Regions from separate parts of the Homo sapiens genome. Here region 2 is linked to region 1. Evidence: fine-mapped expression QTL. A gene starts in region 1. The other region holds a variant in brackets. All regions are shown on one strand. Distances are from middle to middle. Region 1 holds the start of STX7 (syntaxin 7). Region 2 overlaps STX7 (syntaxin 7).

Region 1 (5,391 bases):
TATTGCATATTTTCAAATACTTAGAAGAAAGAATGAATTGTGAATGCTCTTAACACAAAGAAATGTTAAATGTTTGAGGTAATGGATATGCTAATTACCCTGATTTGATCATTACACATTGTACACATCTACTGATGTATCACATGTATCCACAAATATGTAAATCATTATCTGTCGATTAAAATAATAAAAGCAAAAAAATCTTATTACAGGTTATTTTAAGCTGCTAACAAGATAACTGATTGCAGTAAGAAACTACACTTTTACTCTACATTTCATTTTTTCATGTGACAATTTACACCATTTTATATTGTGTATCACTTAAATTACATTGTAGCTCTCGTTTTTAAAAAATTAAAATTAATTAAAATTAAGTTAAATGAAAAAAATCAGTTCCTCAGTCACACTAGACACCTTTCAAATGTTCAAAAATTCTGTGTGGCTAGTGGCCAGCAGCTTGGACAGCTCATTCATAGACCACTTCCATTATCACAGAAAGATCTATTGCACAGTGCTAATCTCCACATTGCAATAATCATCTTTCTATGAAGATATACAAACACTATAAAGAGAAAAACAGGAAGGGAGAATCAAAGTGCAACACTCAGATGAGAGTCTTCTCAAGACGGCTTCTAAAGAACACAAAGGAATGAACAAAAGGAATGTTAAAATTTAATCTTGAAGTGTCAAACACTACTCCCAGTTAAAATCCGATATACTGTAGAATCCTTAAGATTTCCATTTAGCATATATCTCATGCTCTATAAATCTACCCTGGGCAAAGAAGTAGTCAATTTCACTTTCTTAATCATTAGCATCAGCATAAACAACTGGACTTCTCTATACCCTCTACCCCAAGTAAGTTCTGAGGGGTGGGGGGTGAGCATTTTTTTGTCTGTTTTGTGGACTGCACTATTCTCACTGCCTGGCTACATCACAAGTGCTTAACAAACATTTGTAGAATGAATGAATGTACCCACCTCCTAAGAACACACACCCAGCGTGAGGGTAAATATTACCATTTCCAAAACATAAAATTCCAGTGCCTTCTTTCAGATACCGAAGGTCCCAGGCTTCTTGCTGCCTTGGGCCTTTGCTGGGTGCCATTTCCTATTTCTAGAAGGCTCTTCCCATGATCTCCACGTGACTGGCTCCTTCTCCCCAGCAAGGCCTCATCACATGCTAGAGAAACCTTTGTGACCACTCTGATATGAAAGTGAGAACTCACCACTGGTCACTCTTTGTCAATCTAACTTACTGCTTCACAATACTCAAAAGTCGAATTAATCACTGTTTATTATTTATCCCTACACCTCTGGAATACAAACAGGAGCTACTTCTGGAATATAAACAGGAGAGAGATGACCTTGTCATCCTGTGTAATCTACAGTGCCTGGTGCATAGTAAATGCTCAAGGAATGTGAGGGTGCTCTGTCTACATAAGTATCCTCTGCAAAAACTACATTAACTGTATTCTTTGGCCTTAGCTCTTTCATCACTGACCTTTTGTACTACTTGGTTTTAGTTCACAATACCGAGGATTGTTTTTTTCATACTTTCACACATGAAACTTGCAAATTAAATGGAATCACAGCAAACTTCACTCAGACTTACTGTGAATATTTTCTATAATTTACTTTTCAATCATCAGCACTTAAAGTTTGGGGTCATAACCAAAATAAGGATTGATTTTGTTATCAAGAGCAACATAAGTAACATATCTGAGGAAAAATTATGATGTTAATCAGTTAATATGGTATCATATTAACCTCTACAGAAACTGTGAAGTTAAGAGCATAATTCTTAACTAGTCACGAGTCTGAGGCCAACTTCTCAAAGTAGCCTATAAGGCCTGTCCACAACACAAAACACAGTTTAACACCGTTATCAGCCTCTGCCCAGGTGTGCTCAGAGAACCTGCAGAAGAAATGTCCACTTCCAACATTATTAAATAGCACAGCATTTCATAATTACTTTCTTTTCTTCCAGATTCTGGGCAAGTTTTATATATTATATATAATTATAGTCAGAATACAACGATCTGAGGTAAACAAAAATTAACGTATACAGATAAGAGCCAAACAAATGTAAGAAATTTGTGGGAAAAAACACACAGCATTTGATCAGAAATGCAACTTTTTTTCTTTGTCTGAATTTAAAGAAAGTAACTAGAAAACAAGGTGGAGGAAATACTAGAAATATTTTATGTACGTTTAAAGGTTTTTATGTAAATTAATTAAAGGTGTATACTCAAAGAATGTCAAAGTATGTTAAAGTCATCAAGCCAAATTAAAAAAACAATACTACGATCCTCTGAATAAATAAACATACACGGTTCGCCTGCTACAGCCATACATTTTTCAGTTCCTCTATATTCGGGAAGTTTAGTGTGTTTTTCAATCCGTGAGTTGAAAAGAGGAAGAGGTCATTTGGTCGTGTCTGGATTCCTGAGCTGGGCCCCAGCCGGCTCTGGCGCCCTCCCCGGGGTGCGCTCCGCCAGCCGTGCGCCTCCGGAGCTCTGCCCAGGGGACCGCGGCGGGTGCGTGGCTGGGTAGGCCCACCTGACCACAGCCGCGCGCACCCGGAATGCGGAACGCGCCGCGCCCTTGCACCCGGCCGGGGGGCGTGGGGAGCCGCAGGCGCTCCGGGAGCTGGGGCAGTCCCGCCCTTCCTAGCCTCCCGAGTGCCTGCTGCAGAGCGCAGGGCGGCGGCCACCTGACCACGCGCACAAACAAGAAGGCGCAGCAGCCGCAGGGGCACCGCGCCTCCCTGTCGCCCGGCCAGGGAGCCCCCTCCCCAGGGTCCTCTTACCTGGACCTCCACGGCTCCCTCCTACACCTCCGACCGCCGTCACCCACCTACCCCGGAGCCCTCAGCTGCAATTCTCAGCTGATGGGCGGTGGCGTGGGGACGCCCAGTGCGCATGCCCGCAGCACAACTCAGGAAGAAGGCGGGGTTCACCCCTTTTCTATTGGCCCGCGGGGCTGAGTGACAGCGGCCCTCACCGCCCCTCCGGTTCCAAGCTAAGGAATGGGGGTATCAGCAAAATTGCAAGGGAGCTGTTCTTTGAAGCCTGACGTAGAGATGGTGAACGCCTCTTAGCCTGCGTGCAAAAAAGGACAGAATGGAGGACAGTTGTCTTCTTTATCTGGTGAAGCCAGCCTTCTTGCACGCGGGTCTTCACCCCGCCCCATTAGCTCTTGCCTGTCTTGTTTGCTAACCTTTAACTGCAGTAGATCGCGTTGACAGCTCTATCGAAAAATGCAAAGGCGAGTACACAATCCTAGCAGGAACAATGAAGGAATAAGTGAAGAGTCATCTCTGGGTGCTCACTTGTAAACAAGTTTTCCTAGTACATACAAGTCATTCTAAGCATTCCTGAAAAGCAGGGCGTAGTTTTCACAGGGTTTAAAACAAGCAGAGACAGTTCCAATGATAAATATGCAAATATATTGTAATTGTTAGATGAAAAGCATCAATTGCTACAAATGAAAGAAAGCCCTCTCCAAATTAATTAGAAGATAGATTGGCTTAGCCTTTGCCTATATTAAGGCAACACTATTTTCTAAAATGATTACCCGGATAGGTGATATCAAAAGTCCAGACGCACTTAGGTGGAAAAAAACAAAACCCAGGATAGAATTCTGATTGGAACTCACCAACACTAAGTGTGGAATGTTGTCTGCTTAAGAGAGATGGACAGAGAAAGAATAACCCTGAAAACGAGTAACCCACAAGATAGGAAATAAACCAGGAAAAGGTAAACTAGAGAATGAAGGAAAAAAGGAGGGAATTGTCCATGATGTCACCTGTTACACAAAGTTCAAGTAAATAAAGAACTGAAAGTAGTGCATTGTACTTGAGAATTAGGAAGTGGCTGGTGAACGTAGGAAGAAACATTTCAATCATTGAAGGAACACATGAAAGGATCTTACATCCATGTGAGGTTTAGTGCACTTTCCAAATACCCATTCATATTACCTTTGATAGAACTCTGGGCTCCGGGGAGGGAAGGTACAATGCACTACAGAAGAACCTGAGATTAAGTGGCCTCTTCAAGTTACCCTGATAGTTACTGACTATGCTGGGCCCAAAACTTAGCTGTCTGAGCCCTCATCTTGGGCTCATTCCAATTCCTTGTTTTAAAATATGTTATGAGTGGATTCCTTCCAGGTCTTTTGAAAACTTAGAATAAGATTTCATCCTTTGGTATTCAAATGGGAAAAAAAAGAATTATAGTCTAGACAAACTTGCAAAATTTAGAAGTATTAAGATAAATGAATTACTAAGAGTTCCTGACACAGTATTCCATCTGTGAATCTGGCTGCTACCAAGTTAAATTCAGCCAGGTGTCTTGAAAGTGGTAGGGCTTTAAAAGTCTCCTAATTTGATGAGTGATAATGTCACATCTCCCAAAATAAATCATTTCCATGTGCAGAAGTTACCTATGACTGAAAGCTTGTAATTTGGATTTTCAGAAATAGTAATTTGCGAGATTTGGGCCTTCTTGGAGAGATTTTGAAGGAAACCAGAAGTTGTTGAGTGGGGAATGTTATCTGCACACTTGTGGTGTCCTTATTAATATAAATACCATAAATACCTCCTATGTAACATCTCTCATGTAGGATGGAGAACTGTCCACTGCTGTATCTCCAGTGTCTGGGATAGCAATTCCAGGGAATAGAAGGAGATAATTGCTGGTTCATTTAATAGTTACTGAACTAAAAATATTTTTTACATGACCACTATGTGATCTTCTGGGAAAGCCAAAGAAGTAAAAGACGCATAAAGGTAAATAGAGCAAACAGGGACTTATTGGTAAGTGAGAAGGACAAGTTGACTTATGAAGGTTTGTTTTTATTTATAATACAGTGGGAAAACCACAACTGGTTTAAAAAATCTATGCTAGATTAAAAGGAAGCTTAAATTAATACTTAATAAACAAGAGTTAGTTCAGTTGTGCCTTATTGTTAAGCACCTTCCATGTCTCTCTACAGTCTACTTGTTTTCTGTTTAAGATCACACAAGTGCCTAGTCATATATCAAGCACAGAATTGATTTTGCCCTAGCTTTTGAACATGGAGGTAATAAACAGATATCCCGTGGAAATCTTACATGGGCCATTATAGCATGATGACCGGTATATTTGTTTCTAATTTTACCTCCTGATGACTGGTATTTTCGTTTCTAATTTTACCTCCTAAGTGTTGTTCATATGTGCCCTCTTCTCTCTGTCCCTCACGGTTGACATCCTGATCCACTGCAATAGCCTCCTTGTTGGATCTTCTATCTCCAGGTCTTCTCAACTTTATTATTGTCAAAGCCACCACTGAATATTTGAAGCTCTAATCTGAGAACTTTGCTCCAGGCTTCATGCCATTTCCATGATTG
Region 2 (5,391 bases), 55 kb before region 1:
TTAAACAACTGATCAAAAAACTTTCAGAGGGCATTAAAAAGTGAAACTAGGTATCAGAAAAATCTTAGTCGAGGCTAAATAACTGCATTTATAAGCTTTCTACCAATGCTATTAGGTGTTGGAGTTAGTAACTACTGCCTAACGATACTTACAGTAAACACTTAAAAATTTGTACTTTGGGTTGGCCAAAGTGGGAATTAATGCCCTTTCAAGTTTATTTAAAGATTCAATTCAGTTCTAGAAAACTCCCTCGTCAACAAGTAGAGGTGTTGTGCGTGTAACGACTGGACAGGAAATCTGGTTTTGCCTTCCACCACTTACATTTTAAGCATAAATGCCATCACTACACAAAACCTACGGGAATCCCACTCTAAGCAATTAAGTGACCAACCTCTTAAAAACTTGCCAGAAGCTACAGTGTCTACAAAAACCTATTTAGTGTGTTATTTAGCTCTATTTCTGCATTTAAAATTAGGATTATTTGGAGAAAAATATTACATAATATTCATGTTAACCAAATGATTACAAAAACAAAGAATTAAAATTGGTGTATTGATATGGTATTTGAATAATGAGAAAATGGGCCAATAGGAAGATTTTCTTCTTTATTCCTATTTGATTTAAAAGAAAAAGATTTGCCAAGGGATGGGTAGGGTTAAATTAAAAACATTTTAAGAAACATTTCTTTATATGGAGCATACTTACTGTTTTTGCTTTGAGTGCATTCTGATGAAATATAGATTCCAAATTCCCCTTGGATCTCACCCTTCTGTCTAGTGCTTTGCCCTCTATTTGGGGCAGTAATTCTATACATATCCTGTAAATGTCTGTCCTGATGATCAGGATGCCCAAGCTCTGAATCCAACTGCTGCCACCAAGAGAACGGCTCCTTTTTGGAGCCATTACACACAGATCATCACTCAAATCAGTAGTTTCTCTTTAGAAAACTAGCAATTTTCTGGTAGTCTGTCAATTAAGAAAAGAAAATGAAATTCAGTTACTTAGTAAGGAAAACTGGATAAACAGGAGGCTGGTCCAAACGGAGATTTATATTTAGACATTCCCTTTCTTCCTTGCCTCATTCCTTTCACACAGCTATTTCCCTTCTTTTAACACACCAAGTTCTTTTTATATGCCAAATAACAAAACATAAACTCCCTGAGGGCAGGAAGCTTATTCTTTTGGTTCACTCTTAGAACACTATGCCCAGGCATGTAGTAGCCTGGCAAAAAGCCGGCCCCAAATAAGTGCCAAATTAAGTATTTATTAAGCAACTACTACGGGAGGGAAGGAAGAAGGGAAGGAAGGAAGGAAACTGTGTTAAGTCCTGGGGCCCCAGAAGCTTAGTATATGTATTTTTTATTTTGGTTGGAAAAAAATGACTTGCTTACCATCTAGAGCCAATGCTTCTAAATTTTTCCATCAAAGAATCTTTAATGAAAGTGAGGAAAATTCTGAGGCTTCCACTTCACGTGGTTTGAACTGTACATCTCAGTGTTTGTTTCACAATTATGCTAGACTGTCAACTCACTTCTCTTTCTAGAATGTCCTCTGCAGTGCAGGTAGACCAGAAACCACACTTCCCACAAACTCCTTCTGTCTCTGGTTCTAAGTTGAGAGTTGACCATGAGAAAAGGAGAGACCATCTTTCCTCAGAGGCCACTGCAGACAGAAGTGTAGGCGGGCAGAGGACATGAGTTTCACAGCAGTTTCAAAATCTCTTGCAAGGCACTGGCTTTGGAGCTATTAACAGCTGACAGCTGGGGACAGCTCCCTGAGACACACTGTCAGTGCTGCACGCCAACAGCACAGCCTTCTGGATGTTCTCAAGAGTCACAGCAGTGCCTGGGCCAGCTCCTGAGATCCACCCACTTTGGGGCCGCAGACACCTTCCTCACCCACCCTTTTGATGTCTAATTCCCTATGTTAAAACACTTTACACTTATAATCCATCAAGTGGTTTCTGTTTTTCTAACTGAATTGTTAAAATATGCAAAATTCACATTAAAGAAGTTTCCTACCTATCTTGTGACCTCAGTGAATGAGATGCTGCTTTATCCAATCTACTGACTTTGGAAAATCCAGCTGAAATGAGGAAAGATAATCGTGCATGTCTGGCAACCAGGTAATTTCTTTCCTATCTTTCATGTCACAGTATTTTGAGGACACAAATTCCTAAATACTCAGAAAAAAATGGTTTTATCTTAATTGATTTATAAATTATGTTAGGGTAGTTGTTAAACAGAATTTTGTCAAAGAAGCAGTACACTGTAACACTTTCAGGCTCCCATTGGTTTAAAATTTGATAAGTGTATTTCTTTGCTGACAAGTCAAACTGTTCAAATGTTATGGAGGACTAAAAAGGCCTGGGATTCACAGGCTCATTTTTTGTTTTAACTGAATCATGAAAATACACAACTTTTTTTTTTCCAGGAAAGACAGATGTTATTTACCACCAATGAATTTTTATCATATTTAAATGAACTTGAAAATGTCATTCAACTCAAATCCCTCAATCAACTTACTTCAGCCCATTCTGAAACTTCATATTGCAGCAAACCAGCCATGTGAAAGAAATAAATTCAATTTTGACTTTCAAAAAAAATAAATGCTGCATAAGTTACCCTTGTGGACCTTAGCTATTAAGG[T/C]GGACAATGACTTTATTTTCTTTACGTAAGTTTTATATTTTATTATGACATTCATTTTTTCTACATGAAGACACAAATAAAAATTATACCAACTACATAAACTATTTTGTACTTTCCTTGCTAAACCACAGATGTATTTCATGGAAAGAGGGGCCTTTAAAGGCACTTATTTATCATTGTAGGTGTGTCTAAACAATTGATATTCAAAAACACAACTTTTTGTGTACAAAATTTTACAATTTTTAACAAAAGCAGTGAAGACACTAAATAACCCAGTGGCGACCTCTTCAAAGTGCAGTGTCCTTGGTCACCAATGCAGATGCTACTGGGGCAGCCAGCGGGCTCAGAGGGTCCAACTCCAGACACTGCATCCATGGCTGTCCTAGACTGAGTTGCACTTGTAAAAGAGATGGTCCCACACCTACTAAAAAAACAAGCTACTCTAGTATCAATATGACATCACTCTTTTACCATCAATCATATTGCAAAACCATAGTATTTAACGACCAATAAACAGCCAAATACCTAATGCCACATTGTCGTTCAATTTACCTGGCTGGTTAATATCAGTCTGTGTTTGAGTATTTCTTTTGAGCACACAAAAACAAATGTATAGTCACTTGATGAGGAAATTCTTCACTTTGACTCAAATGGATTCACCATGCTGTCAGTTATGAAAACAACTCTAATTTTAATCTCCACAGGGCAACCTTCACTTTTCACAGCAGTTCTAAAACTGACCTACAGAAAAGTTCAAGATTTTTTAAAAAATTTGGCTACCATACTATGTTTCTTATTTAATTTTCTCTAATCAATACTACTCTTACGTTCCAAATATTTCATGGGAAATTTTTCCCTCAAACTTAATATGTTTCTTAAACAAATTGAAGCCACTAAAGTTCCTGTTTAAACCACTGATAACTGCCCCAGTTAAAATAATAATAATTTAAAATGATTACACTTCAAATAAAGGTACTAAAATCACGCCCCCCAAATTTGTAAGCGCTTTTGTTGTTATTGGGTACTCACTGTGAATAGAAGTAAATGTACTTGACCTGTATGAGAATAAACATTTTATCAAGTACAGCAAAAAAAACGGAACTGATTGTGAAAGCCATGGGGATGGGACTTTAAAACAGCGGTAAGACGCTGGTTTATCACCAGAAACCTCATGTGCCTCTGTGCACTTGAAGTAAAGACCACATTTGAGCAGGCCTGGTGGGCTGGCACAGGCCTCAGAACAGGTGCTGTTTGTGTGAATTCTCCTCCCTGCATTGTCCATTCTGTTCTAGGGCAGTCTGATTCTGGCAACAGGAGTCTCTAAGTTCCAATCACTCACTCACAAAAGAGTTTTCTGTAATCCCTTTTGTGGAAAAAAATGGAGTTTTTCTGATATGCAAAGCAACTTCTACCAGTCTGACAAAGTAGGTAAAATCGATGACACCCTAAAATAAAAACCTGGAGTGAACTGGTGCTCCAGAAAGATGCTGAATGGCCACAGTGCATGTGGTGATGTCTCCATGCTGAGGTTTCAGGCAGCACAGCACTAAGTATCAGGTGACCTGTGGTCCCACCAGAGCATAGTCCTCATGAAATAGGCCTAACCAGATACCTTTTAACTCATCTTTATTTTGGTTGCAAAGATGTGGTTTACTTAGCTACTTACTATTTGTTCCCATTTGAAGTCTCAGAGCTTGCCAAGTTAAACACCGCCTTCAGTACCGAGCTGCTATACAAGAACATTATAAAATACAAAGTATAAACTAAGATAATCCTCTTTACAGAATTCAGATTAGTGCATTAAAACAACATTGATTTAAAAAGGGAAGTGAGATAACTGGCAAACCTCCAATTGCTTTTTTAATGAAGGATGACACAAAATGGCACGCAAGGTAAACACTAAATTTTGTCAGGTGCTCAAAAACAGTTAATTGTGGGAAAGTTACTTTCCAAAAGTAATTTTGACCTAAAAATATTAACCATTATTCTATAAGACATAAGGGAAGGTAAATAATGGCCCACAAAACCAGATGATATGGTTAAGATAACTAGTTTAGTGGAATAACAAACTGGGGTCTTAAGAATCCAAACGCAATAGGTATTGGTATTGGTTGTTCATACTCTTCTTCCAAATTATGTTAAACATTTTTAGTAACTACACTTTCCCCCGTAAACATCAGACTTAAATAGACCATATGTAAAAACAACCTATCCTTAGTAATTTTACTAGGCAATCTACAGCAAAAGCTTAATATATACACAGAAAGAGTATCAAATAAACTAGAAAAGTATTCACCGACTTCAGGGTAAAAAAGATCTTAAAAGAAAACCAACAAAAAAATGAAAGACACTTTGTGCTGTTGTGAACCAGAAAAATACAACCCATGTATAGACCTTAATTATTTTACATTATTGAGAATATTTTCCCTGCTGAAGCAAATCAAAATTAAATTTGAGAATTTTAATTGAAGTAACACACATCTAGGTGTGTCACAGTGACAGGGAGATGCAAACAGAATACACACACCTTTAAATTTACGAATTCCCAAAACTAAGTCAAGCAGGGTAAATAAATTATAAATGAAAGGCATATGCAATGTGGGCAAAAACTTAACAACTATTAAATTGAAGACCAAGGGAGTTATGTCAGCAGTGACATTTAGAAAATCTTTCAGTATTAGAAAATATCAGATTTAATCCAAAGGAACCACCCCAACCCCCCCAATAAAAATAACAAAGTATG

The links.
Region 2: its variant is fine-mapped to the expression of STX7 in whole blood (INTERVAL, PIP 0.99).

What each region holds. Positions count from the first base shown.
Region 1 is chr6:132,510,196-132,515,586 of GRCh38, forward strand. STX7 (syntaxin 7) reads right to left here and starts at 2,921. Exons shown (of 10, transcript NM_003569.3): 1 at 2,812-2,921. RefSeq lists enhancers at 2,169-2,670, 3,028-3,227 and a silencer at 2,388-2,877.
Region 2 is chr6:132,455,256-132,460,646 of GRCh38, forward strand. STX7 (syntaxin 7) reads right to left here. Exons shown (of 10, transcript NM_003569.3): 10 at 1-5,391. Among named protein-coding and RNA genes, the nearest start is that of STX7, 55 kb to the right of the region's middle. The variant T/C (reference allele first, on the strand shown) is at 2,649.